Linked DNA regions of Homo sapiens. The protein of the gene in region 6 purifies or fractionates together with the protein of the main gene of each other region. This does not show direct contact. Each region holds a gene or a part of one and is shown on either strand. Other genes may lie near its edges.

The links.
Region 1: the proteins of FADS3 (region 6) and NEMF purify together in Homo sapiens (affinity purification with mass spectrometry; one large-scale study listed by BioGRID and IntAct). This does not show direct contact.
Region 2: the proteins of FADS3 (region 6) and MFAP3 purify together in Homo sapiens (affinity purification with mass spectrometry; 2 studies listed by BioGRID and IntAct, with this or other methods). This does not show direct contact.
Region 3: the proteins of FADS3 (region 6) and VKORC1L1 purify together in Homo sapiens (co-immunoprecipitation; one large-scale study listed by IntAct). This does not show direct contact.
Region 4: the proteins of FADS3 (region 6) and UPF3B purify together in Homo sapiens (affinity purification with mass spectrometry; one large-scale study listed by BioGRID and IntAct). This does not show direct contact.
Region 5: the proteins of FADS3 (region 6) and PEX7 purify together in Homo sapiens (affinity purification with mass spectrometry; one large-scale study listed by BioGRID and IntAct). This does not show direct contact.
Region 7: the proteins of FADS3 (region 6) and NPLOC4 purify together in Homo sapiens (affinity purification with mass spectrometry; one large-scale study listed by BioGRID and IntAct). This does not show direct contact.

Annotation. Positions count from the first base shown.
Region 1 is NC_000014.9:49,828,789-49,832,288, forward strand, and holds part of NEMF (ribosome quality control complex subunit NEMF), read right to left. Parts: intron 3,490-3,500; coding exon 3,419-3,489; intron 3,339-3,418; coding exon 3,263-3,338; intron 2,574-3,262; coding exon 2,511-2,573; intron 639-2,510; coding exon 561-638; intron 475-560; coding exon 266-474; intron 20-265; coding exon 1-19. UniProt on the Homo sapiens protein: Key component of the ribosome quality control complex (RQC), a ribosome-associated complex that mediates the extraction of incompletely synthesized nascent chains from stalled ribosomes as well as their ubiquitin-mediated proteasomal degradation.
Region 2 is NC_000005.10:154,041,967-154,045,466, reverse strand, and holds part of MFAP3 (microfibril-associated glycoprotein 3 isoform 1 precursor), read right to left. Parts: intron 1-3,500. UniProt on the Homo sapiens protein: Component of the elastin-associated microfibrils.
Region 3 is NC_000007.14:65,876,074-65,879,573, reverse strand, and holds part of VKORC1L1 (vitamin K epoxide reductase complex subunit 1-like protein 1), read right to left. Parts: intron 1-3,500. UniProt on the Homo sapiens protein: Involved in vitamin K metabolism. Can reduce inactive vitamin K 2,3-epoxide to active vitamin K, and may contribute to vitamin K-mediated protection against oxidative stress.
Region 4 is NC_000023.11:119,839,464-119,842,963, forward strand, and holds part of UPF3B (regulator of nonsense transcripts 3B), read right to left. Parts: intron 2,316-3,500; coding exon 2,272-2,315; intron 1,796-2,271; coding exon 1,613-1,795; intron 1,222-1,612; coding exon 1,183-1,221; intron 1-1,182. UniProt on the Homo sapiens protein: Involved in nonsense-mediated decay (NMD) of mRNAs containing premature stop codons by associating with the nuclear exon junction complex (EJC) and serving as link between the EJC core and NMD machinery.
Region 5 is NC_000006.12:136,829,092-136,832,591, reverse strand, and holds part of PEX7 (peroxisomal biogenesis factor 7), read right to left. Parts: intron 1-3,500. UniProt on the Homo sapiens protein: Receptor required for the peroxisomal import of proteins containing a C-terminal PTS2-type peroxisomal targeting signal. Specifically binds to cargo proteins containing a PTS2 peroxisomal targeting signal in the cytosol.
Region 6 is NC_000011.10:61,874,546-61,878,045, forward strand, and holds part of FADS3 (fatty acid desaturase 3), read right to left. Parts: intron 3,043-3,500; coding exon 2,966-3,042; intron 2,419-2,965; coding exon 2,321-2,418; intron 1,911-2,320; coding exon 1,814-1,910; intron 1,646-1,813; coding exon 1,566-1,645; intron 1,459-1,565; coding exon of another isoform or gene 1,432-1,458; coding exon 1,306-1,431; intron 1-1,305. UniProt on the Homo sapiens protein: Mammals have different sphingoid bases that differ in their length and/or pattern of desaturation and hydroxyl groups.
Region 7 is NC_000017.11:81,627,113-81,630,612, reverse strand, and holds part of NPLOC4 (nuclear protein localization protein 4 homolog), read left to right. Parts: intron 1-807; coding exon 808-888; intron 889-3,500. UniProt on the Homo sapiens protein: The ternary complex containing UFD1, VCP and NPLOC4 binds ubiquitinated proteins and is necessary for the export of misfolded proteins from the ER to the cytoplasm, where they are degraded by the proteasome.

The DNA.
Region 1 (3,500 bases), on a different chromosome or scaffold from region 6:
TGATAACAAGTATGGATTTCTATTAAAAATATTCAATAGCATTTCACTAACGTCAATGACATCACTTTTATTTTCAATTTTCTTCTTCAATAAAATTATAAATGGTTTACAGTACTGGAAGTTTCATTATTTATTTTAATCTAAATTAGTTTTTTCCCTTTCTTTGAGAATTTCAAAATATGAAGAAAAAATGTTTAATACAGTGAACAATTAAAATAACAAAATAAAGACAAGCATTAACTGCTTGACTAAGAGTCAAACTTACCTTAGCAGCATTGTAACATGGTTTGTTTGTAGTTTTAATTCTTTGATTGCACTTGCAACAGGGTCTCCTTGAGCCTGGGCTTCTTTCACAATTAACCCAATTTCTGTCCAATCTATCTGGTTAGCTAAAGCACTTCGAACTACCTGAATGGCTCTGTCAACTATTTGTAGGTTCATTTCTATGAGCTCTCCTTTCAGTTTGTCTATTTCCTTAAAAAACAAACCACACACATTTACTACATTGCCAGTTAAAGTTAACATTTTTGAAAAAGCACTGAGAAAGCCAAACATAATACCTGAGCCTGCTGAAGAGCTTCCAATCTGTTTTCGTGATCCTTTCGAACATTATCTAATTTCTTCAATGCTTGCTTTTCCTTTTATTGGCAAAACAGATTTTTTAAAAATTAGATTTCTCCTACCTCATGACATCCCTCTCTTACTTCCCAACACTCACTATCCTGACCCCATCTATGCTGTTATCTAGCTAGCTGAAGTTCCCATAGTCTACCACCCTAGGCCTATCCCACTACAATGCGTTCCATGCCCCAAAATTACTTCTCCTGTCTTCCTAACTCCCACTCCTTATATAGAAAGGTATTTTGATTACAGGTTACTGTGTATATAAGATATACCCCTAATACCCTTGGCATTATTCAAACAGGCAGAAATCAAGACATTTTTTCCTATGGCACAAAAGTAAAGTTTGGGAGAACGAATTCTTTATTTTTTTTTAAATAATAGAGACCGGGTCCCGCTATGTTGCCCAGGCTGCTCTCCAATGTCTGAGCTCAATCCTCCCACCTTGGCCTCCCAGAGTGCTGGGATTACAGGCCTGAGCCACTGCACCTGGCAGGGAATGAATTCCCAAAGAGCATAAATTACCAAATGACTTTGTATTTTTTGCTACTTTTGATTTTCTCACAACTATTTCCAGTATTTTACAGAAACTTTTTCCCCTAAATTAATAAGACAAAGGCTCATGGTAGTTATTTGGCATTTTATCATATATACTTTACATTTCAAGGTTATCAATTGGGGGACAAAATTTCTAACACTAGTAATATCATCAATTAATGAGTATTTAAATGCTAGATGAAATATTTTTTAAAATTTAGATAAGAATGATGACTATTAAAACCCACAAAATAATTACCAAAATAAATCACTAGTATTTTGACACCCATGAAACCATGGGGTTCAGTTTACTAGCCAAAGTGCTGCCACCATGTGGTAATTACATGATGTATATAATTCATCTGACTGGCCTACCTGCTTTGAAATTGTGCTATGATTAACTAATTTTTAAAAACTGAAGAGGAAGTGGTACAGGGATTCAAACAATTTGATTTTTTTTTCTTTAAGGCAGAGTCTCACTCTGTCACCCAGGCTGGAGTGCAGTGGCACAGTCTCAGCTCATTGCAACCTCCGCCTCCCAGGGTCAAACAATTTTTGTGCCTCAGGCTCCTGAGTAGCTGGACACCCATACCACACCCCATTAATTTTTGTATTTCCAGCAGAGACAGGTTTTCACCATGCTGGCCAGGCTGTTCTTGAACTCCTGACCTCAAGTGATCTGCCCGCCTCGGCCTCCCAAAGTGCTGGGATTTACAGGCGTGCGCCACCGCGCCCAGCCTCAAATAATTTGAAATTTTTGCACACATATTTTAAGACTGTTTTTGAAAAAATCAAATCCCCTTCAAATCAAGAGTGACTATTAACAATTTATGAAACTGTTCTGCAGCAAATGCTCTAAAAACATGGTCAAATGTGCTGGGAAAATACTGTATATCACTTCTTTTGGAGTCATGATACACAGAAAACATATTAAGACTTGGCTTTAAAGTCCATTTAAAAAAGAAACAGTTTAATGATAAACAATATCCCCTCCTCTGGCCTATTTAAAATCTCCCTAAAACAGTATCTCCTTAACAGCAATGTTTGAGAAGCTTTGGGTTGTTCTGAGCAAACCACATTAAGGTGTAAATAACAGGCCTCACGTTCCCACCGTATTTTCCTTTTTTTACAGAATATCTGAAATACTCATGAAACAAATGAGGACATACTTTTCAACAATAAAATCCCCCATGGACCTTCTTCATAAACCTTTATCATAAATAAAGAGGCAGGTCAGAGAGTTCCCATACTACTTCTTACACTCTTTCTGAAAGGCTACCCTTTCCTATATCATCTACCCATCAAGCCGCTAAAGACTAGCTGGTTTAATATGTGTTTTTAATAATACATACCTGTTGTAAAGCTTTTAAGTCAATTTTCTGGCCTTCTATCTTGGAATAAAATTCATCCACCGCCTTATTAAAAAAACAAACAACTAGTTGGAAAAAAAAGCACAGTCTCTACTTCAACTTGCATACACAGAATTTTATTTTTTTTTTCTTTTTTTTTGAGACAGAGTCTCACTCTGTTGCCCAGGCGGGACTGCAGTGGCGCGATCTAGGCTCACTGCAACTTCCACCTCCGAGGTTCAAGTGATTCTCCTGCCTCAGCCTCTCAAACAGCTGGGACTACAGGTGCACCCCACCACACACCGCTAATTTTTGTAGTTTTTCAGAGACAGGGTTTCACTGTGTTGGCCAGACTGGTCTTGAACTCCTGACCTCAACTGATCTGCCTGCCTTGGCCTCCCAAAATGCTGAGATTATAGGCATGAGCCAGCAAGCCCAGCTGCATACACAGAATTTTAGATTCCATTGTGTTTCATAACACCACTCAAAGAACTTGAACAGATTTCCGGTAAATGTATTATATGGCTAAACAGTATCAAGAATCAAATGAAGTTCAAACCTCTGGTCCTTCATCCTGAAATAAAGTGGCAACAATTATTTCCAACAGCTGTATCTGTGACGACACTGATCTTTAATGCCCAGATTCACAGTGAATGTAAAGCAAGTATAGTTTCAGTTTCTCAATAGAAGCAAGTTGATATCAACAGCTCATATCATGCTAACTAACTGGTAAAGGAACAGAACGGAAAACCCACCTTGTCAAATGATTCAAATTCTATATATGGACATTGTGAATGTTGAGAAAACAAGAAAGGATGAAATTCCTCATACCTGTAAAACATATTTATTATATCACATTCGAGAACATTAACAAACATCCAAAGCAAATTGACCCATGCCTATATGCTTACGTCAGTATGTCTTCAACTGGTTTATCTGCTTCCAAGCTTGGTTTTATTTCTCTTTTCTGAATGATATATCCCTACAAAAATG
Region 2 (3,500 bases), on a different chromosome or scaffold from region 6:
AGGGGACACCATTATGCAGTTTTAATCTTAAATTTAAAATTTCACATTTTTCTTTTTCTCATTGCAAATATTTTGCAATATTATGGAGCATATAGGCATTGTAAACTGAGCTTGGATCCCAACCATGATATGACATTGTATGTGTCCTCAGTTTGTGGTAGAGAAGATTTGTCGTGATCTACTTACCCAACGGCTCCCCTCTTTGAGCCCTATCCCTATCTTCTTGGGTCTAGGAGGAAGACAACCTATTGGCAAAGTAAGCTAATAGAATCTTTGTTCTTGGAACTTGGAATTGAGACCCTTGTGGGTCAGGGTCATTTGAGGAAAAGGAGGCATGTGGGGGCTGAGGCAGTCAGGTTTGGGCCACATACAAGGAGAAGCTGTAAGAAAGGACAAGAGGGATGGGGAAGGGAGAGAGTGGGAAGACAGGAAGAGGAGCAGGAGAAAGACAAAGAGAGACTCATACATGGTGCTTTGGTGCCTGATAGAATTCTACTTCCTGGCACTCCTGTGACCCTTTTTTTTTTTTAAAAAAAGAAACAACTTTATTAAATTTTACTCAAAATTAAAACCACAAAAGTGAAGATGAATGTGCAAACACGTAATAAATGCGGAAATGGTTAGGCAGGAGAAAAAAGATTAAGTTCACAAAAAGTTATTGAACTGTGTCTGTGGCTGCCAGGCAATCTTCATCATAGATCTCTAGTCTCTTCCTTACACAGTGGAGTGTGGCAAGCAAACTGCCCATGTGGCCAAGATTTGTGGTTCTTGTGTTGTACAGACATAGCCATTTGCCTCTACCTACCAGACAGGATTTAGGAAAACACTATAAACTCCCTTAAACTGCTCTTAGGCCAAACATGGCAGAAGAAACCTGGCACACTGATTTTGAGCCACAAGAGAAAGAGGCTGCACAATAGCCTTACACATCCAGTTAATACTGGGCACTTCACTCATACCATGTACATCCTGAACACAGAGGACTTCTGATTTGAAAGACTAACGGATATAACCCATTTGCAGGTAACAGGCTGTTCAGCAGCTGTGAGAGAAAACACTGGCAAAGATACGTGTCCAAGAAGGTGACAAAGCAGAAAAAAATAGTGAGGGAAGAACAAATCATCCTTGGTATCAGGGTACTATTATTTCCTCACACTAAGTCTCCTTTTTGCTAAGTCAGCTTGAATGGGTTTCTGCTACTTGCAGCACAAACTGCATTGACTATGACCATTCTGCTCATTCTAGACTAATGACTTTAAAACTACAGCTCAGCTAGGTCAAGGATCCATCGTGGAAGATGAAGTACAGTAGGTGGTGCAAGAGTTGCTAAGGAGAATTAGGACACTGTCCTAGACCCTCAGGAATTTACAAACCAGCTTGAAAGACAGCCCAGAAACAGCCAACTGTATCTAAGACAATGTGACTGAAATGTAATTATATTGTGAATGCAACAGAGAAAAGACAAATGTGTCAGTTCTAGGAATGCAATTCACTTATATGTTTGGGACTTCCTATAATATTAGGCCTGCATGCTTTGAACATATGATCCTTTATACTATAGTTATTTTACTTTCATTTCCAATCCTTTAATTTTTCCTCACATATACAGCCTCAGATGCAGAATTGTTCACCAAATCAGTTAAGTGGGCTGAGGTCATTAAGGCAGGTATATTAGATGCCATGGGAGACACAAGAGTACGTGCATTTGTATTTGGAAAAAAAAATATATATATATATATTATGCCTGCTGTTTTTAATGTAGCAGCTGACATTTGAAACCCAAGAACAGATTTCAAAAAGGAAAACCAAAGTGTCACCTTCTTCTTATCAGTTAAAAAGGGCTATACTATGTTTGTGGATGAAGTTACTTGATAAAATTTTTTATTACCTTTCCTTTTTGTGTGTGTGTGTGTGTGTGACGGAGTTTCGCTCTTGTTGCCCAGGCTGGAGCGCAATGGTGAGATCTCGGCTCACTGCAACCTCCACCCCCCAGGTTCAAGCGATTCTCCCACCTCAGCCTCGCAAGTAACTGGGATTACAGGCATGCACCACCACGCCTGGCTAATTTTTTGTATTTTTAGTAGAGACGGGGTTTCTCCATGTTGGACAGGCTGATCTTGAACTCCCAACCTCAGGTGATCTGGCTGCCTCGGCCTCCCAAAGTGCTGGGATTACAGGCGTGAGCCACCGCGCCCAGCCTATATTACCTTTCTTCAGCATTAATAAATAAAAATGTAATAGATAAGTGTAAGACTCAAGTTTAATCCAACTCCTTTTTCATCTTTCAGGTATACAGAATGTAAGCTTTGCTAGGATCATAAAGAATCAGAAATGTGGATGATTTTACCCCAGAAAACCATGTTGAATATTGACTATATTATTTTTAAAAAAGAGAAGAGCCTATAGCTGTCACCCCTAACAGATTGTCTTGTTGCCGTTCCTGCCAACTTCTGAGGGAAGAAATATTTCCATTCTGTTCCAATTTTCAACACAAATAAGGAAGTAATATGGCTGATTTCCGTTCTGGTGACTCAATATTAAGTTGGCTGAGGAAACTGATGTTTGCAGAAATAGTTCTGGGAAAATGCAAAGCAGGGAAACACATTGATGCCCAGGTGGTATTTTTTTTTTTTAAACTCCAATTATATTGGGATATTAGTGCTTCATTCTCTATAATCAAATGTGTTCTAGGCTGCATTTACAGCTCATCCACCCTTCTCTGCCTGCACTGTCACACTTGGAAAACGGACCAGTTCCTACAGCAGGCACACAAATTGACAAAGCAGCATTCTGAATCGGCAAAGGGGAGAAAAAGCAAATGAAGAGCAGGTTGTTAGCACTACCCTACCCTTTGCAAAGAATAAACACAAAGTTGTTCTGCCTAGACTCAAGCATTATTATAGGGATCTGTAACTAAAAAAGGTTAGTGACATTCAAACAGAAATCACTATCCTGAGGGCCATTTACTCAAAAGTTTCTAATTAAAATAGCCTTTATATTACTACCTTGGAGCTATCACATACCCCATAACTAGCATTTGGTCAGTCTGAGCTCAAACTTCAACATATCTTCTGGCACCTGGAGAAACATCGTCTGTATTTATCAGAGCTTTGCTTTAAACCCAGGATTATTTCAGTTATACCCATAACTTATATCCTTTTTGCCATAGGTATATTTGCTGAATAGCTACTGGATGCAAATGACAAAAACATCAATGAAACAGGCTTAGATTTATGATCTTCCCAGGCCATTTTTCCCCCTCTATAGTCTGAAACATCTCTATTTGAAACTCAGTCTAGTTAAAACAGAACTCCTCTTACCCTCAGATCTACTTGTTCAGCTTATGAACAGCTTAGATAATAGCCAGACAATTCTTCCAGTTTTGCAGTATCAAAATTGTAAGACAATCATGGCTCAGTGGTTAGGAGAATGGGCTCTAGAGTTAAGGTGCCTGATCCTACCCCTGGGTGAAGCCATAGGCTTGCAAGGCCTTAGTTTTC
Region 3 (3,500 bases), on a different chromosome or scaffold from region 6:
CTGGATCAAGTGTTAGTCTGCGTTGCTCAGTTTTCTCATGTGTAAAATGGTGATAAAAGCTACCTGCCTCATGGGACTCTTGAGAGACTTCAATAATGTATGCAAAACATTTAGAACACTGCCTAGCACATAGTAAGCATTATCTGTAAGTATTAACATTTATCTCTACTACAGTCCAGATTCACTTCCTTGTGATATTTCTCTATTCCTCTTGGACTCTTTTCAGTTCAACCTGCTTCTGAAATTTCCATACCAAGAAACAATGATAATGTTAAGAATTTTATTTCTGAAATTTATCTTGGTTAGTCAAAACTACTAGAACAAATTCTCTTTTACGTACTAGCAGTTATTAACATTTCACTAAATATGAACATAAGCATTTAAAGTATGGGAGCAATGGAACGAATGCCAAGCAAAAAGCAGGCTATCAATAAGGATGCATACGTGATACTTCCATGTTAAAAAAAGGGAGGAATCATATGGTCACGTGGATGTTTGTCTATGTGTCAAACGGCTCTGAAAAGTTTCACAGCGGTCTACTGAGCGGGAGAACTGTCTGGTGGAAGGGATATGAAGGAGACTTTTCACTGTACATGCTTTGTTATCTTTCAAATCCGAAGCAGCGAATGCCTTACCTAGACAAGAATTTAATTTTTCTTTTTTTTTGAGACAGAGTCTCACTCTGTCACCCAGTCTGGAGTGCAGTGGCACGACCTCAGCTCACCACAACCTCCACCTCCCGGGTTCAAGTGATTCTCCTGCCTCAGCCCCTCTCAAGTAGCTGGGACTACAGGCGTGTGCCACCATGTCTGGCTAATTTTTTTTGTATTTTTAGTAGAGACGGGGTTTCACCATGTTAGCCAGGATGGTCTTGATCTCCCGACCTCGTGATCCGCCCACCTCGGCCTCCCAAAGTGCTGAGATTACAGGCGTGAGCCACTGCGTCCAGCCAAGAATTTAATTTTTAAAATGGGGGTGCAAAGGGGACTTTAAATAAGTACTCTGGAAGCCAGGTGTCAAGTCTCAATTTGCTACTACCTGTGCTATCTTGGGCAAGTCACTTAACCTCTGAGTCTCAGACAAAGCAAAGAGCAGTAAATACTTCTAGGTTCTTTTTTTTTTTTGTAAGACAGAGTTTCCCTCTTATTGCCCAGGCAGGAGGGCAGTGGCACAATCTCGGCTTACTGCTACCTCCACCTCCCGGGTTCAAGTGATTCTCCTGCCTCAGCCTCCCGAGTAGCTGGAATTACAGGTGCCCACCACCATGCCCGGCTAATTTTTTGTATTTTTAGTAGACAAGGGGTTTCACCATATTGGCCAGGCTGGTCTCAAACTCCTGAACTCAGGTGATCCACCCACCTCAGCCTCCCAAAGTGCTGGGATTACAGGCGTGAACCACTATGCCCAGCCCTAGGTTCTATTCTAATTCTAAAAGTTTTATTATCTCAATGGGGTAGTAAATAGATGGTACTTTTTTTTTAAGATATGGGAGAGGTAGTAATCCGACATTTTGTAAAATAAGGCAACTTTTTTATGGACTTGATTTTCAAATGCAGTGGACCCTTGAACAACACGGGTTTAAGCTGTGTGTGCTCACTTATACGTGGATCTTTTTCAACCAAATGCAGACCGAAACCTGCATATATGGAGGCCCAAATTTTCACATTCAGGTTCTGCAGGGCCCACAGTGGGGACTTGAGTATGCCAGGATCTCAGTAAAAACAGGGGTCCTGAAACCAATCCCCTATGGTATATGTTCTATACATAGACCATAGGACAACCAGACTATTTTTACAGTTTTAAGAAACATAGATTTGTCAAGCCTATTAACCTTTCCAGATCATTTGTACTATTCTTACATAGAAACCCTTCTTAGAGGGGGTCTTATATATAGAAAATACCTACATAGAATATTCTGCATATTACAGCTGGACACGGTGGCTGATGCCTATAATCTCAGCACTTTCGGAGGCTGAGGCAGGCAGATCACCTGAGGTCAGGAGTTTAAGACCAGCCTGGCCAACATGGCAAGACCCTGTCTCTACTAAAAATACAAAAATTAGCCGGGCATGGTGGTGGGCACCTGTAATCCCAGCTCCTTGGGAGGCTGAGGTAGGAGAATCGCTTGAACCCGGGAGGTGGAGGTTGCAGTGAGCTGAGATCATGCCACTGCACTCCAGTCCGGGTGACAGAGCAGCGAGACTCCATCAAAAAAAAAAAAAAGAATATTCTGCATTAGTTTCTCTTGCACAACTTCAAAATTGTTTTAAATGAACACATCTTTATACTATGCTATAAAGTCAGCAATAAACTACATTAAAACAATTAATGTTTAAACATATAAACAAGTATGTACAAGAAACTTATACTTAAAGGCATTTATTATCAAACACTGGAAAAAAAAGAACATCTCCAATCAATGGTAACAGCTATAACTGAGGACAGGCTTTATTTCAGGAACATACATGTATCACTTTTCATCGTAACACTAATCTGGCAAAGTAGGTTTTTTTGTTTTTCTTTTTTTGAGACAGGGTCTCTCTCTACCACCCAGGCTGGAGTGCAGTGGCACCATCATGGCTCACTGCAGACCTCAGCCTCTCAGGCTCAAGTGATCCTCACACCTCAGCCTCCCAAGAAGCTGGAAATACAGGCATGCGCCACCATGCCCGGTTAACGTTTGTATTTTTTGTAAAGACACGGTTTTGCCCTGTTGCCCAGGCTGGTCTGAAACTCCTGAGCTCAAGAGGTCTGCCAGGTGTCAGCGTCCCAAACTGCTGGGATTACAGGTGTGAGCCACTGCACCAGGCCCTAAGTAGGTGTTAAAAGCCCTATTTAACATAAGAAACTGAGGCACCATGAAGATAAGGCCACAAGCCTAAGAACTGGGAGAGGTGGAAGCCCACCCAGATCCCTTAGATTTGAGCTCAGTGTACCAAACCAAGGGGGCAGGGACTGCTAACTGAATGTTAGCTGGCAGGCTGGTGCAGGTTTGCAGCAGAGTTTTCACCGATTTATGGGAAAATGGGAAAAAGTAAGGACACGAAAGTAAACTTTTTTTTTTTTTTTTTAAAGACAGAGTCTCGTTCTGTCACACAGGCTGGAGTGCAATGGCGCGATCTTGGCTTACTGCAACCTCTGCATCCCAGGTTCAAGTGATTCTCCTGCCTCAGCCTCCCGAGTAGCTGGGATTACAGGTGCATGCTACCACGCCCAGCTTGTTTTGTATTTTTAGTAGAGACGGGGTTTCAGCATGTTGGCCAGGCTGGTCTGAAAGTAAACTTTTCCATATAGCTAAATGATTCCATTTAAAAATATTTTATTCTGAGAGATTCTGTTCTTTCAAATTGTTTGAATGGAAATATCCTTTTGTTAAATGAAATGATGGTGACAGGAGATAGTGGTGTGTTATTGTTTTTACTGGCTGTACATGGTAGAATTGAAAAATCAGCATTTCTATTGTAGCCTACTAATTTCGGTGAAATATTTCTTTAGAAATA
Region 4 (3,500 bases), on a different chromosome or scaffold from region 6:
ATGTTCAAAAATGCCATTGTTTTTTACATTGCTGCTATGAATCTCTCGAGAATACCTCCAAGTGTCGGATAATCAGAGAGATTCTTAGGCAAAATAGAAGAATTTCAAGTCTCAGAGTGAAGGTATCACACAAGGTTCATCTCAGGGTGAAGGCATCATGTAAATTACTAAGCAAAAGGCAAAGCACCACAAGACATAAGCACAAAGCATTTTGGCACACAGACAGCCACTGCAAATGGTGAGTCCAAAATGGACACTGAGAAGGCACCAGTGTAAAATGAGGATACCATGTGCAGGTTTCATTGGAAGTGCTCTTATTTCTCCAATGAACATCCTTATTAGAAACCAAGGTGTTCATTACTCTAATAAGAACATTAATGAATGTCTCTAGCATGGCTGGCTCTACCTTCTGCCTTGCTGATTGTTAGGAATAGCAAGTCAAGTCACTTGTGGCATAGCAGACAGAGAGATTGCTGGAAAGAATTAAGATGAGAAACTCCATCCTCCCCCAAGCCCCTCATCATCAGTAATGAGCCCCGTAGAGACTTAGGGAACCCTTGCTACATAAACTGCTGAGTTTTCAGGAAATAAAATAAGGAGACCCTGCCACCCTCTCTGTGAGATTTTCTTTGACTTTATCTGAAGTGCTAGGTACTAGTACTTCCCCAGGAAATATGTTGAAACAAGGGCTGCCCAAGCCATGCCCTTAGAAGGGAAGTGGCAAGGTTGGGATCTTTCTGCAGGTTTTCTTCTTCCCAAATGCAATGCATGAATCCGAATCTGCTGCTCACAGATTCCCAGATATATGCAGGAAGATACTACGGGAGTCATGTGAGAGGGAAAGGCACATATTGCAGGGTATTTATCCCTAGTCCTCCCACAAGGCAGCCAGTTATGAGAAGCATATAAGAAGATGAGAAAGAACTATATAGGCATGGTTGTCCTCTGGCTGTAGGTCAATGAAGCTTCTGGGCACACAGCAGAGCATCAGGAAGTCACCTGGGCTTCCTTTTAAAGTAGAAATTTATAATAAAATAGCTCAGCTTTTAAGAAGACTCAAGTCAACCTGAAGGGGTTTTCAACAAGTAACACTACCACCACCACCACCAAAAGGACTTATTAGCTAAGACCTGTGTGTGTGACATGATACTAGATGCTCTGTATCATGTACTTGGTCCTTACATTTTTCTGATTCACAGCTTGTAACAGAAACCTGTGTACCTGAAGACAGTGGAAAACAAACAGATGAGGTAACTTCATGTATCAATTATGAAGAAAAAGCTGAAAAAAAACCATAAATCATGCCAGCCAGCCCTAAGCCCTCATTTACTATGAATTTAGAGGACAATAGTCTAAAAATCCAACATTTTCAATGACAAAAACAGCACAGATCTGCACTGAAGAAATAACATACTACTTTATCCTTTTAAATGATCTTAAATTTAAAAACTAATACTATTACAGGAAAGATTTTTATTGGATCACTTCCCCCCAAAAGAGAACAAAAACAAAACAAAAAATTCATTTACACCAACACAAGACGCATGCATATTTAAAGAAGTAGATACGTGCAATTTTTAGCAACATGCAGTCAGTTTCAACATTCTTATACCTTAATCTTTGGTTCATCCTTTAATTTGTCCCTTTCTGGAATTCTGTCTATCTTCTTTAGCTTTTCTATATCTTTCCTTTTTCGTTTCTCTTCTTCTTTCCATTTCCTCCTCTCTTCTTCTCTTTGTCTTTTTCTTTCTATTTCTCTCCTCCTCCTTTCTTCTCTCTTTTCTTCTCTCATTCTCTAGAAAGAAACATCAACACAAGCCTTCAAATAAAATAATCATCACCAAAACCCTAATAAATCCTGAAGTCATGGTAGGCCCCAACTGAATAATCTTTCCTTCCTACTTTCTACAAAGTGGCATTCTACCACCGTTATCCCCACTCCACCCAGAAAACGAAAGACAATGAAGACCAGAACCTGCTAATATTATTCTTCCACTGCTGCCTTACTATCTCTCCAGAGGCTTTCAGAATATCAAATGAGTGTCTCTGGGACAACCTAAGAACATTCCACGTTTGTAGAGTGAACTCCTGGTCCAACAACCAGAGTGAAGGAGCAGGCTAGAGAGTGAGACCAAGAAGGCAAATCCTTAAAGAGTAATGGTGGAAAAAGCAGCTATTTCTCCTCTAGAAACCCAATGCTCTTAAAATGTTTATAGAATGCAAAGCAAAGAAATTAAAGTATTGAGAGAACTATAAAGACAAAAGATTTACCTGCTTGTTTTTCAGGAAGCTCAAAAGTGGGGTTGTCTTTTTAGCTACATAAATGTAAACAGATTATTAATCATACTTATCAACCCCTAGAAACGATTCCATTTTCTGACATTCCCTGCCAACCACCCAAGGTGGGAAAACATGTACACCCCTTATGCAGAAAGATCACAATTGTAATATCAGAAAGAAGTTTTACAGCATTCGATTTCAACAATACGGGATTAAAATACCTTTTAAAAAGTAAAGAAATTCAAATTAAAACAACAAAATAATTTATTAAAAGAGTCATTCCCAACTGATGAGAATTAAGTACTTAGGACATTCTCTTGTTTTACTGATAGGAGTGTAAACTTGTTCAACTGGAAGAAGTTGGGGGGAAGGGGCTAAAAATATCTAATCCTTTTGACCCCATAATTCCACTTCTGGGAATTTATTCTAAGAAAGTTACCAGAAATAGGCTTGTACTATCCATCTATTAATAAAAGTCAAGTTTTGGAAGAATATTTTTCATTTTCAACATTCTGAATAAGCTATTGGCCTTACAGCCATCTTAAAACACATATTCCTGGCCGGGCACAGTGGCTCATGCCTGTAATCCCAGCACTTTCAGAGGCCAAGGCAGGCGGATCACTTGAGGTCAGGAGTTCGAGATCAGCCTGGCCAACATGGTGAAACCCCGGCTCTACTAAAAATACAAAATTGGCCGGGCGTGGTGGCGGACACCTGTACTTCCAGCTACTCGGGAGACTGCGGCAGAATCGCCTGAACCCAGGAGGCGGAAGTTGCAGTGAGCCGAGATTGCGACACTGCACTCCAGCCTGGGCGACAGAGCAAGACTCCATCTCTCACACACACACACACACACACACATACACACACACACACACACACACACAGAGAGAGAGCGAGCGAGCAAGCAAGCAAAAAAAACAAACAAACAAACAAAAAAACCCCACATATTCCTTAGGATAAATTCCTGAGTAGAAATCCTGGGTCAAAGATTATGCTCATGTTTAGAGCTACTGATACAGTAGTGACAGCCTATTACTGAGAACCAAGATCCAAGCTAGAATTCCTCAAGTAGTTTTCAATTTTGCAGTAACTAATTTCATTTTTTCGTATTTTCAAGTCAAAATTTTTTTAGGAATATGAACTTATTACTAGAAAATACCAATTGACCTTCAAAGGCTTACCACTGTCTAAACATTCCTTATCAGTCATCGAACTTT
Region 5 (3,500 bases), on a different chromosome or scaffold from region 6:
AGCACAGCATAAAAGTTCAGAAAATTTGCAACCTAACCATGAGGTAGAAAAGAAAAACCTATTTCTTGGGGGGAAATTCAAACCTGCTGCAGAAATTTGTATAAGTAACAAGGAGCCAAATATTAATAGCCAAAACAATGGGAAAAATGTATCCAAGGCATGTCAGAGACATTTGCAGAAGCCCCTCCCATCACAGGCCCAGCGGCCTAGGAGGGAAAAATGGTTTTGTGGGCCTGAGTGGCCCTGCTGCTCTGTGCAGCCTCAAGACATGGTGCCCTGCATCCAGCTGCTCTAGCTCCAGCCATGGCTAAAAGGAGCCAAGGTACAGCTCAAGCCATTGCTTCTGAGGGTGCAAGCCCTAAACCTTGGCAGCTTCCATGTGGTGTTGGGTCTGTGGGTACACAGAAGACAAGAAGAGTTTAGAAGACAAGAGTTTAACCTCCACCTAAATTTCAGAGGATGTATGGAAACACCTGAATGTCCAGGCAGAAGTCTGCTGCAAGGGAGGAGCCCTCATGGAGAACCTTTGCTAGGGCAGTACAGAAGGAAAATGTGGGGTTGAAGGCCCCACACAGTCCCCACTGGGGCACTGCCTACTGGAGTTGTGAGGAGAGAGCCACTGTCCCCCAGGCCCCAGAAAGGTAGATTCACTGACAGCTTGTATTGTACAGCTGGAAAAGCCACAGGCACTCAATGCCAGCCAGTGAAAGCAGCCATAAGGACTGCACCTTTCAGAGCTACAAGGGTAGAGCTGCCCAAGGCCATGGGAGCCTACCCCTTGGATGTGAGATATGGAGTCAAAGGAGATCATTTCAGAGCTTTAAGATTTAGTAACTGCACTGCTGGGTTTCAGACTTGCATGGGGCCTGTGGCCCCTTTGTTTTGGCCAATTTCTCCCATTTGAAACATTTAGCTAATGCCTATAGCCCTACTGTATCTTAGAAGTAACTAACTTGTTTTTTATTTTATAGGCTCATAGGCAAAAGGGACTTGCCTTGTCTCAGATGAGACTTTGGACTTGGACTTTTGGGTTAATGCTGGAATAAGTTAAGACTTTGGGGGACTGTTGGAAAGTCATGATTGGTTTTGAAATGTGAAAAAGACATGAAATTTGGGAGGCGCCAGGAGTGGAATGATATGGTTTGGCTTTATATCCCCACCCAAATCTCATCTTGAATTGTAATCCCCATGTGTCCAGGGAGGAACCCGGTAGGAAGTGATCGGATCATGGGGGCAGTTTCCCCCATGCTGTTCTTGTGATAGTGAGGGAGTTCTCAAAAGATCTGATGGCTTTAAAAGTGGCAGTTTCCCCTGCTTTCTCTCTCTCTCTTTCTCTCTCTCCTGCTGCCTTGTGAAGAAGGTTATCTACTTCCCCTTCACCTTCTGCCATAATTTTAAGTTTCCTGAGGCCTCCCCAGTCATGTGGAACTGTGAGTCAATTAAACCTCTTTCCTTTATAAATTACCCACTCTCAGGTATTTCTTTATAACAATGTGAAAACAGACTAATACAATACCTATCATTATTGACTTCTCAGCTTCTATCATTATCAAAAAGTAAATAATTGATTCATTTTTTAAAGTAAACAAGATTTTAACTCTTGAAATGTATAAGCAAATACATTTCCTCCATAACAGAATACTAATAGTTGTATACTTAGGTCAAAAATAAGTTTTTATAAGCAATGCTCAAAAACCTCAATGGATCAAATATGTTATAAAAATTCAGCAAATTGATAAACCTTGTTATTTGACTATGAGAACAAATTTTAACTCATTTTTAAATTGTGATAAGCCAACTCATTAGTCTGAAAATTAGAAATTAATATATTACATTGATTTATGTCATCTTTAAAGTCACTTTAACTCACTCTCAGTAGCACAGTGTTTTAAGTCAGAAAGCAGTGAAATAAAATTGTCAATTCACTCTTATTTTTCTATTCTCACTGAACTTTTAAAAATTTTTATTATATATTCAGCAGCATTAGAATAAGCAAAGCCAAAGGCATTTTATGGGACTCAAAAGACATAATGACCTCTGCAGACACCAGTTAAACAATAGACAGAAGAATTTGATTCCTACTTCGATGCTAGGTTTAGCAACCATTCACACAGATAATGTCCATGTTTTTCTTTCTTTTCATTTCACCAAGACCTTCACTCCTCAAAGCCTAAAATATATCTAAATCTTGGATTTCTCTTTTTTGCTTCATCTGACAACTTGAAAATTGACTGTTGGACACATAGCCATCAAGTGGTAAAGTGGGTAACTGGAAAAGTTCTAACTTGTTTTACATTTTTCAAACCCTATTATAATAAGAGCAAATAATAATACTAGCTCATATTTATTCAATGCTGGTCTGTGATACAGACTACTAATAAACTTAGTTTGCAAATAAAAACACTCAAGTTTAGGAAAAATATGTGACATACGCAAGGTCTCACAACAGGTAACTTACAAAGCTGGGATTCAAATCCAAGATTGACTAAAACCATGCTATACGTCTTTATTATATACTCTCTTCCACAGAAGAAAATGACCCATTAGTTGCTCTTCTATTTCACAACACAGCTTCCCTGAACATACTGGTGGAAAAAAAAAAAACAGAAATTGGCTATGTTCATTATCAACTTTTTTTTTTAATAACTTTCTTTTAAGACAGGGTCTCACTCTGTTGTCCAGGCTGGAGTGCAATGGCACGAACTCAGCTCACTGCAACCTCCACCTCCCATGCTCAAATGATTCTTGTGCCTCAGCCACCAAATAGCTGGGACTACAGGTGTGCACCACCACACCCAGCTAATTTTTTTATTTTTAGTAGAGGCGGGGTTTTCGCCATGTTGGCCAGGCTGGTCCCAAACTCCTGGCCTTCAGTGATCTGCCCACCTCGACCTTCCAAAGTGTTAGGATTACAGGCATGACTCACTGCACTCAGCCTCATTTATTAATTTATTCAACAAATATTTACTAGCTCCTTAAAACTCTCATTTGAGCTTAAATCCTTTTAAGTATTTTTGAGTATCTGGCATATGCAATGGACTGAATATATCCCCACAAAACCCACATGTTGAAATCTTAACCCCCCAGTGTAATGGTTTTAGGACGTAGGGCCTCTGGGGGGTAATTAGGTCATGAATGTAGAGCCCTCATGAATGGGATTAGTGCTCTTATAAAAGGGATTTCCCAAACCTCTCTCATTCTCTTTCCACCACCTGCAGATACAATGAAAAGACAGCAGTAGTCTTTGACCTAAAAGAGGGCCCTCATCAGAACCCAAACATGTGGGCACCCTGACCTTGGACTTCCAACCTCCAGAATAGTAAGAAATAAATTTCTGTTCTTTATAAGGCACCCAGTCTATAATACTTTGTTACAGCAGCCTGAACAGACTGAGGCAGAAACTGGTGCCAAGAATTAGGGGTGCTGCTGTAACAAATACCTAAAAAGGTTATCTTCATTTATTTTTCACATAACCAAGCAAAATATGTGAAACAGTAAAC
Region 6 (3,500 bases):
CTTCGACTCCTGCCCGCCAGTCATTCCCAGTAGGGGCAGCTTTCCAAGATGCAAGCCGGGCGTGTCCCTTCTCTGAGTGCCTGCATGCCTGCCTCGGCTATCTATGCCATGAGCTTGGCATTCAGGGTCAAGTGCCCTCTGCCTGAACGCTCTTTGCCAGATGTCCCTGTGGCGAGACCTCTCCCCTCCTCCCTGTCCCTGCTCACACGTCAGCCTGTCAATACTGCCCACCCTACCACCTATTTAGAAACTGCCGCCCCTGCCTGGCCGCCCCCCTCCCCTCCCCTGTCCCCACCCTGAGGGGCTTTTCATTGTTCTTTTGCCCATCTTCTGTAATGTACTTATTTGTTATTTTAATTGCTTGCTGTTTCCTTTGCTGGAAGGAACATCAGCTCCAAGAGGGCAGGAAGCTCTCTAGAGCCTGCATTGCTACAAGGGCAATGCCATCTTCAAGCAAAACTGTCTGATGACCGATGCTTGACCCTGAATGCCAAGCTCATGGCATAGATAACCTCCTCTTGTAGACGCTTATCTAACCTCCAGTGGTCACCAGGTTCATAAGAACCACCTGCATGGGGTTCACCCTAAAAGCTTGCTATATAGAGGGTTCTTTCTAGAGGGCGTGTGAGGGGATGTCCCAACTCTTGGCTGCCTGAGACATGGTTTTTTTGTTTGTTTTTGAGAGAGTCTTGCTCTGTTGCCCAGGCTGGACTGCAAAGGCACAATCTCAGCTCACTGCAACCTCCGCCCCTGCGAGTTCAAGTGATTCTCCTCCCTCAGCCTCCCAAGTAGCTGGGATTATGGGCACCTGCCACCACACCCAGCTAATTTTTGTTTTTTTTTTTTTTTTTTTTTTTTTTTTTTTTTAGTAGAGACGGGGTTTCACCATGTTGGCCAGGCTGGTCTCGAACTCCTGACCTCAAGTGATCCGCCCACCTCAGCCTCCCCAAGTGCTGGAATTACAGGCGTGAGCCACCGCACCCGGCCCTGAGACATGGCTTCTGTTTATGAGTCCCTGTTAAGTGTTTCCTTCTGAGAAACTGGATCTGTTAGCTTCTTTCCCTCAGCCTTTGGGGGTAGGTTTGCATAGACCTGCTCACCGCAGGCACTGCTGTTTGTGAGTCTGCAGTAGGTGCTCCAGAAATTCTCACTGTGTGCGTGAAGGCTGGGGAAGGGAGGAAGGGCATGGGACGTGGACAGAAAGGCTCAGGGACCCTGGGGGCTCAGCATGAGGCTGACCTGGACAAGGGTAGGCATAGGCCCTGGGGAAGCCACCAGAACAGAGGGGCCGGGCTGCAGCCTCACCTGACGATGTCCACCAGCGCGGTGAGGAAGGGCTTCACTTCGTAGCTGAGGCCGTGCTTGGCACACAGCGACTTGACCAGCGGGGCCACCCGGCTGTAGTTGTGTCTCGGCATCCTGGGGAAGAGGCTGGGGGTGGGGAGCGTATGCTGGCACCTGAAGTGGGAGATTCCAGAGAGAGGCCCCACCCACGGGTCCCCTCCCAGGATCCCCTCCCAGGACCCCCTCCCCACCTCCCACTGGCCCCCAGCACCCACACTCACTGGTGCTCGATCTGGAAGTTGAGGTGCCCGCTGAACCAGTTGGTGAAAAGTGAGGGCTCCACGTTGCAGGTGGCTGCCAGCTGCCGGAAGCCGGCGGGGCACATGTGAGGAGGCCGTTGCAGATCCCTGACCCCACGGCACCATCCCCCACCTGGCAGCCCCGTCAGGGCCTCATCCCTGCTTTGCCATCTGGCTCCTAGCTGGGACCCCCCACCCCACCCAGGATGGGCCCCACCCCTGCTGCCCACCTGAGAGCTGACCCAGTCCCGGTGCTTCTCGTGGCCGATCTCCTTGGGGATGTGGTTCATCTGTGTGATCCACACGAACCAGTGGCTTTCCAGGACCCTGTGGGGAGGCTCGGGCACTGCCCTAGGTCCAGCTCACCACTTAGGCACCCTGAGTGGAGGCTGGAGAGCAGCTGTCCCCAAGTGGCCTTGACTTCCTTATCTGTACAATAGGATTGTGGCCATCGCCCCCTTGCCAGTGTTTAAAGAATCTGAATGGAGCAGTGTCCACTGTGAGGCTGAGTCCAGAGCAGCTCCGACACCCACCGGGCCACTTACAAGCCAGGCCACGCTCCCTAAACCCACCGACCCTGGGCTCCTGCCACGCTTGTGTTTATGTGATTCCACCAGCAAGCCAGGGAGGCAGTACCACTGGCCCCATTCTGCAGACGGGAAAAGGGAAGCTCTGGTGGGGGGCTGCAGTGGGGGTCACCTGTCGCCTGTGTGTGACCTCGCCACTCCCTGCCATACCTGACAGCAACAAAGAAGAGCAGCACCCCAGGGACGCCGTAGAAGGGGAGGTAGGATAAGAAGAAGCGGGCATAGAAGCTGGCGGCCCAGAGCAAATCCTGCAGAGGAGGGCAGAGGCGATACCGAGAGGTCTCCAGGTGCCCGGAGGTCTGGAGGCCTGGTGGGTGGGAGGAGGACCTCAGGCATCCAACCCTTCTGCCTGATTTGCCTCAGAGCCCAGGACAGGCCACCACCCTCTCTGGTTTTCTCAGCTGAGTAAAGGAACAGGGTCCTTGCCCTGCCAGCTCACGAGGCTGATTTTAGTGACGAAGGTGTCATGCAGGGTGTGTTGGGGAAGACCCTGCCAGGGACACAGATGCCTGGCAGAGTCAGCCCAGCAACTCCTCCTGGGAAGACACCCTCACCGAGAGAGACCCACACCCCCCCTGTTCCTCAACCCCCCCCCACCACACGTACAGTCACGGGCACACTCGCTCTCCTGCTGCGCGCACACATGTGAGCCACACTGTTGCACGCATACATGTGAGCCACACTGTTGCACGCACATGTGCACCCTGTTTGCCTTCATGGGCAGGTACTGTCCCCCGAGGCACCACCTCCTGCCACGGCAGCCGTATGCCCGGGGTCCTGGGCAACCCCACTCACCGCCCACTGCATGCACACCAGCATGTACGCCAGATTTTCCACTTCAAAGTTCACCAGGGTGAGCAGCGGCGGGCCGACTGCAAGAAGGGGCATGAGAGTGTTCAGGAGTGGGGCTGGGCTGCCAAGGTGAGTGGGCGCCAGAGTGAGGGGCTCTGTTACTCCAGGAATGCCCCTGGGACGTTGGTGCTGGTCACATCCAGCTGAATGACCCCATATCACCCCCAATTCTGTGTCCAAGCCTCCCCAGGCTGCCCTTACCCCACCACCTCCCACCACCCTTCACCGCAAGTCAGGGCCAGACTTGAGTCCTCACTCTGTCCGCCCCAACAACTGCCCAAAGACTCTAGGGCTCCGGACCACTCTAGTGAGGGCAAGAAGAAATTCTACGTGGGGCTTGGGGAAGCTCCCAGCAGGGCTGTGATGGCCCGTGGCTGCAAGGTGTCCCAGGCACGGGAGACAGCTGGGGCAAAGGCATGCTGCTGGGAGAGTGTGTACAGACTGCAGAGGCTGGGAGGATGCCATGACCAGGGAGACC
Region 7 (3,500 bases), on a different chromosome or scaffold from region 6:
ACTGTGTCTGGCCATTTTTAAACGTTTTTTAGGGAAAGTAAGTAATAGCTGGCGTTGTGGCTCACACCTGTAATCCCAGCACAGTGGCAGGATCACTTGAGCCCCGGAGCTCGAGATCAGCCTGGGAAATATGACACTCCGTCACTACAAAAAAAAAAATTAACCTGGTGTGGTGGTGCAAGCCTGTGGTTCCAGCTCTCGGGAGGCTGAGGTCAGAGGATCACTTGAACCTTGGATGTCAAGGCTGCAGTAAGCTGTGATTTTGCCACTGCACTCCAGCCTGGGTGACAGCAAGACCCTGTCTCAAAAAAGCAAAAAAAAAGTAACAATTAGAAAATTTCCTGTGATTCTTTTAAATTGTAGGACTCTTGAAGACTGTCTAATGTTTGTATATAGATCCTGGAACAAAGTAACATCTTTTTTTTTTTTTTTTCCCCAAAGTAACATCTTTTTTAAAGAACACAGTTCATTCATGGTTCATGGTGGGTTTTTCTCTGTTTTAAGTCTGAAGAGACAAAAAGTGTTTTACATATACTCTATAAATAGTGATTAGGAATTAAAGTTGTTTTCTGAGTGAAACTAAGAGTTGAGAGGACAGTACTCTTAAAATATCTCCCCATATGTTGATGAATCTCACCCCTCGGCATCATATTCTAGAAGGATTGAGCTGGGTATTGAAAGGTGAAGAGTGAGGTTTGGCTTTAATTTTCAGTGACCCAGATGCTAAAAGACCACAGATGGAAGCCGTAGTATTAGATCAGGACCTCACTAGGCTGTGCAGTAACCATCATGTTTTGTTTGCAACAGATAATTCGTGTCCAGTCCCCGGATGGAGTGAAGCGGATCACAGCAACAAAGAGAGAAACAGCAGCAACATTTTTGAAAAAGGTATCTGTGGCCTGGGTATTGACCCTCAGGATATTTTTCATCCTCTACTCTTACTGCCATCGATACCTTTTCTCTTTTCCTCGTTTTCTTATTTTCCCTATTCCCAAATTGCCTCTTGCATTGCCTTTCTCTATCACAGTTGGGTTGGATTGCTATAGGATGAGATGTTTGTCACAGCTGATCACTGCTCAAAATTATAGGACCAAGAGCCCAAAGGTAAGTGTAAAAATATTTCACGGCTGGGCGTGGTGGCTCACACCTGTAATCCCAGCACTTCGGGAGACCAAGGCGGGTGGATCACGAAGTGAGGAGTTCAAGACCAGCCTGGCCAAGATGGTGAAACCCCGTCTACTAAAAATACAAAAATTAGTCGGGCGTGGTGGTAGGTGCCTGTAATCCCAGCTACTTGGGAAGCTGAGGCAAGAGAATTGCTTGACTCAGAAGGCAGAGTTTACAGTGAGTCGAGGTGGTGCCACTGCACTCCAACCTGGGCAACAGAGTGAGACTCCATCTCAAAAAAAAAAAAAAAAAAGTATTTCATAAGAGTGGCCAGGCGCAGTGGCTGACGCCTGTAATCGCAGCACTTTGGGAGGCCGAGGCGGGCGGATCACAAGGTCAGGAGATTGAGACCATCCTGGCTAACATGGTGAAACCCTATCTCTAGTAAAAATACAAAAAATTAGCCGGGTGTGGTGGCGGGCACCTGTAGTCCCAGCTGCTGGTGAGGCTGAGGCAGGAGAATGATGTGAACCCAGGAGGCGGAGCTTGCAGTGAGCTGAGATCGCGCCACTGCACTCCAGCCTGGGCGACAGAGTGAGACTGTCTCAAAAAAAAAAAAAAGTATGAATTGTAGATATGACTACAGTTGACTCAAAGAATCATCCCTGGCTCCTCCCTGGTCTCCTGACCTGCATTGTGTCCAGGATTCCCATGACAGTTTTTCTTTTTTTAACCAATCACAAAATATTTCATTTACTGTGATAGTTGCATATTATGTACTTCTTAGCTTATCTTCACAGTTTCTTCCTTATTTACTTTTCCCATGGATTCCCCCAGACTATTTCTGTCTGGTGTTGTTTCTCTTCAGACTGAAAAACATCCATTAGCCTTTGTTGTAGGTAGGTTTGTTGGTCACAGACCTTTGGGTTTTTTTGACCTGAAAATGTTTTCGTTTTGCCCTGTGTTTATATGAGGGTTATTTTCTTTTTTTTTGAGATGGCATCTCACTCTGTTGCCCAGGCTGGAGTGCAGTGGCATGATCTCGGCTCACTGCAACCTCTGCCTCCTGGGTTCAAGCAATCCTCTGCCTAAGCCTCTCGAGTAGCTAGGATTACAGGCACCCGCCACCATACCTGACTAATTTTTTGTATTTTTAGTAGAGACGGGGTTTCACTATCTTCACCATGCTGGTCTTGAACTCCCGACCTCGTGATCCACCCGCTTCAGTGTGAGCCACCGTGCCCAGCCATGAAGGATATATTTTCTTTTTCTTTTTTTTTTCTTTTTTTTTTTATGAGAGGGAGTCTCGCTCTGTCTCCAAGGCTGGAATGCAGTGGCATGATCTTGGCTCACTGCAAGCTCCGCCTCCCGGGTTCACGCCACTCTCCTGCCTCAGCCTCCCGAGTAGCTGGACTACAGGCGCCCACCACCATGCCTGGCTAATTTTTTGTATTTTTAGTAGAGACGGGATTTCACCATGTTAGCCAGGATGGTCTTCATCTCCTGACCTCGTGATCTGCCCGCCTTGGCCTCCCAAGGATATTTTCATTCAATACAAATTTCTTTTTTTGAGATGGAGTCTTTTTCTGTCGCCCAGGCTGGAATGTGGTGGCGTGATCTCGGCTCAGTGCAACCTCCGCCTCCTGGGTTCCAGCAGTTCTCCTGCCTCAGCCTCCCAAGTAGCTGGGATTACAGGTGTGCACCACAATACCTGGCTAATTTTTGTTTTTGTTTTTTGAGACAGAGTTTCGCTCTTGTTGCCCAGGCTGGAGTGTGATGGCATGATCTTGGCTCATTGCAGCCTCTGCCTCCTGTGTTCAAGCAATTCTCCTGCCTCAGCCTCCCGGGTTCAAGCAATTCTGCCTCAGCCTTCCGAGTAGCTGGGATTACAGGCATACGCCACCAAGTCCGGCTAAGTTTGTCTTTTTAATAGAGATGGAGTTTCACCATGTTGGTCAGGCTGGTCTCGAACTCCTGACCTCAGGTGATCCACCCGCCTTGGCCTCCCAAAGTGCTGGGGTTACAGGCGTGAGCCACTGCACCTGGCCTCAAAACAGATTTCTGAGTTGACAGTTCATTTTTGTTCCCCACCATGCATCAATTTTTTTTTTTTTTTGAGACGGAGTCTTTCTGTTGCCCAGGCTGGAATGCAGTGGCGCGATCTCGGCTCACTGCAAGCTCTGCCTCCCAGGTTCATGCCATTTCCCTGCCTCAGCCTCCCGAGTAGCTGGGACTACAGGCACCCGCCACCATGCCCGGCTAATGTTTTTTGTGTTTTTAGTAGAGATGGGGTTTCACTGTGTTAGTGAGGATGGTCTCGATCTCCTGACCTCATGATCCGCCTGCCTCGGCCTCCCAATGTGCCGGGATTACAAGAGTGAGCCACCACACCT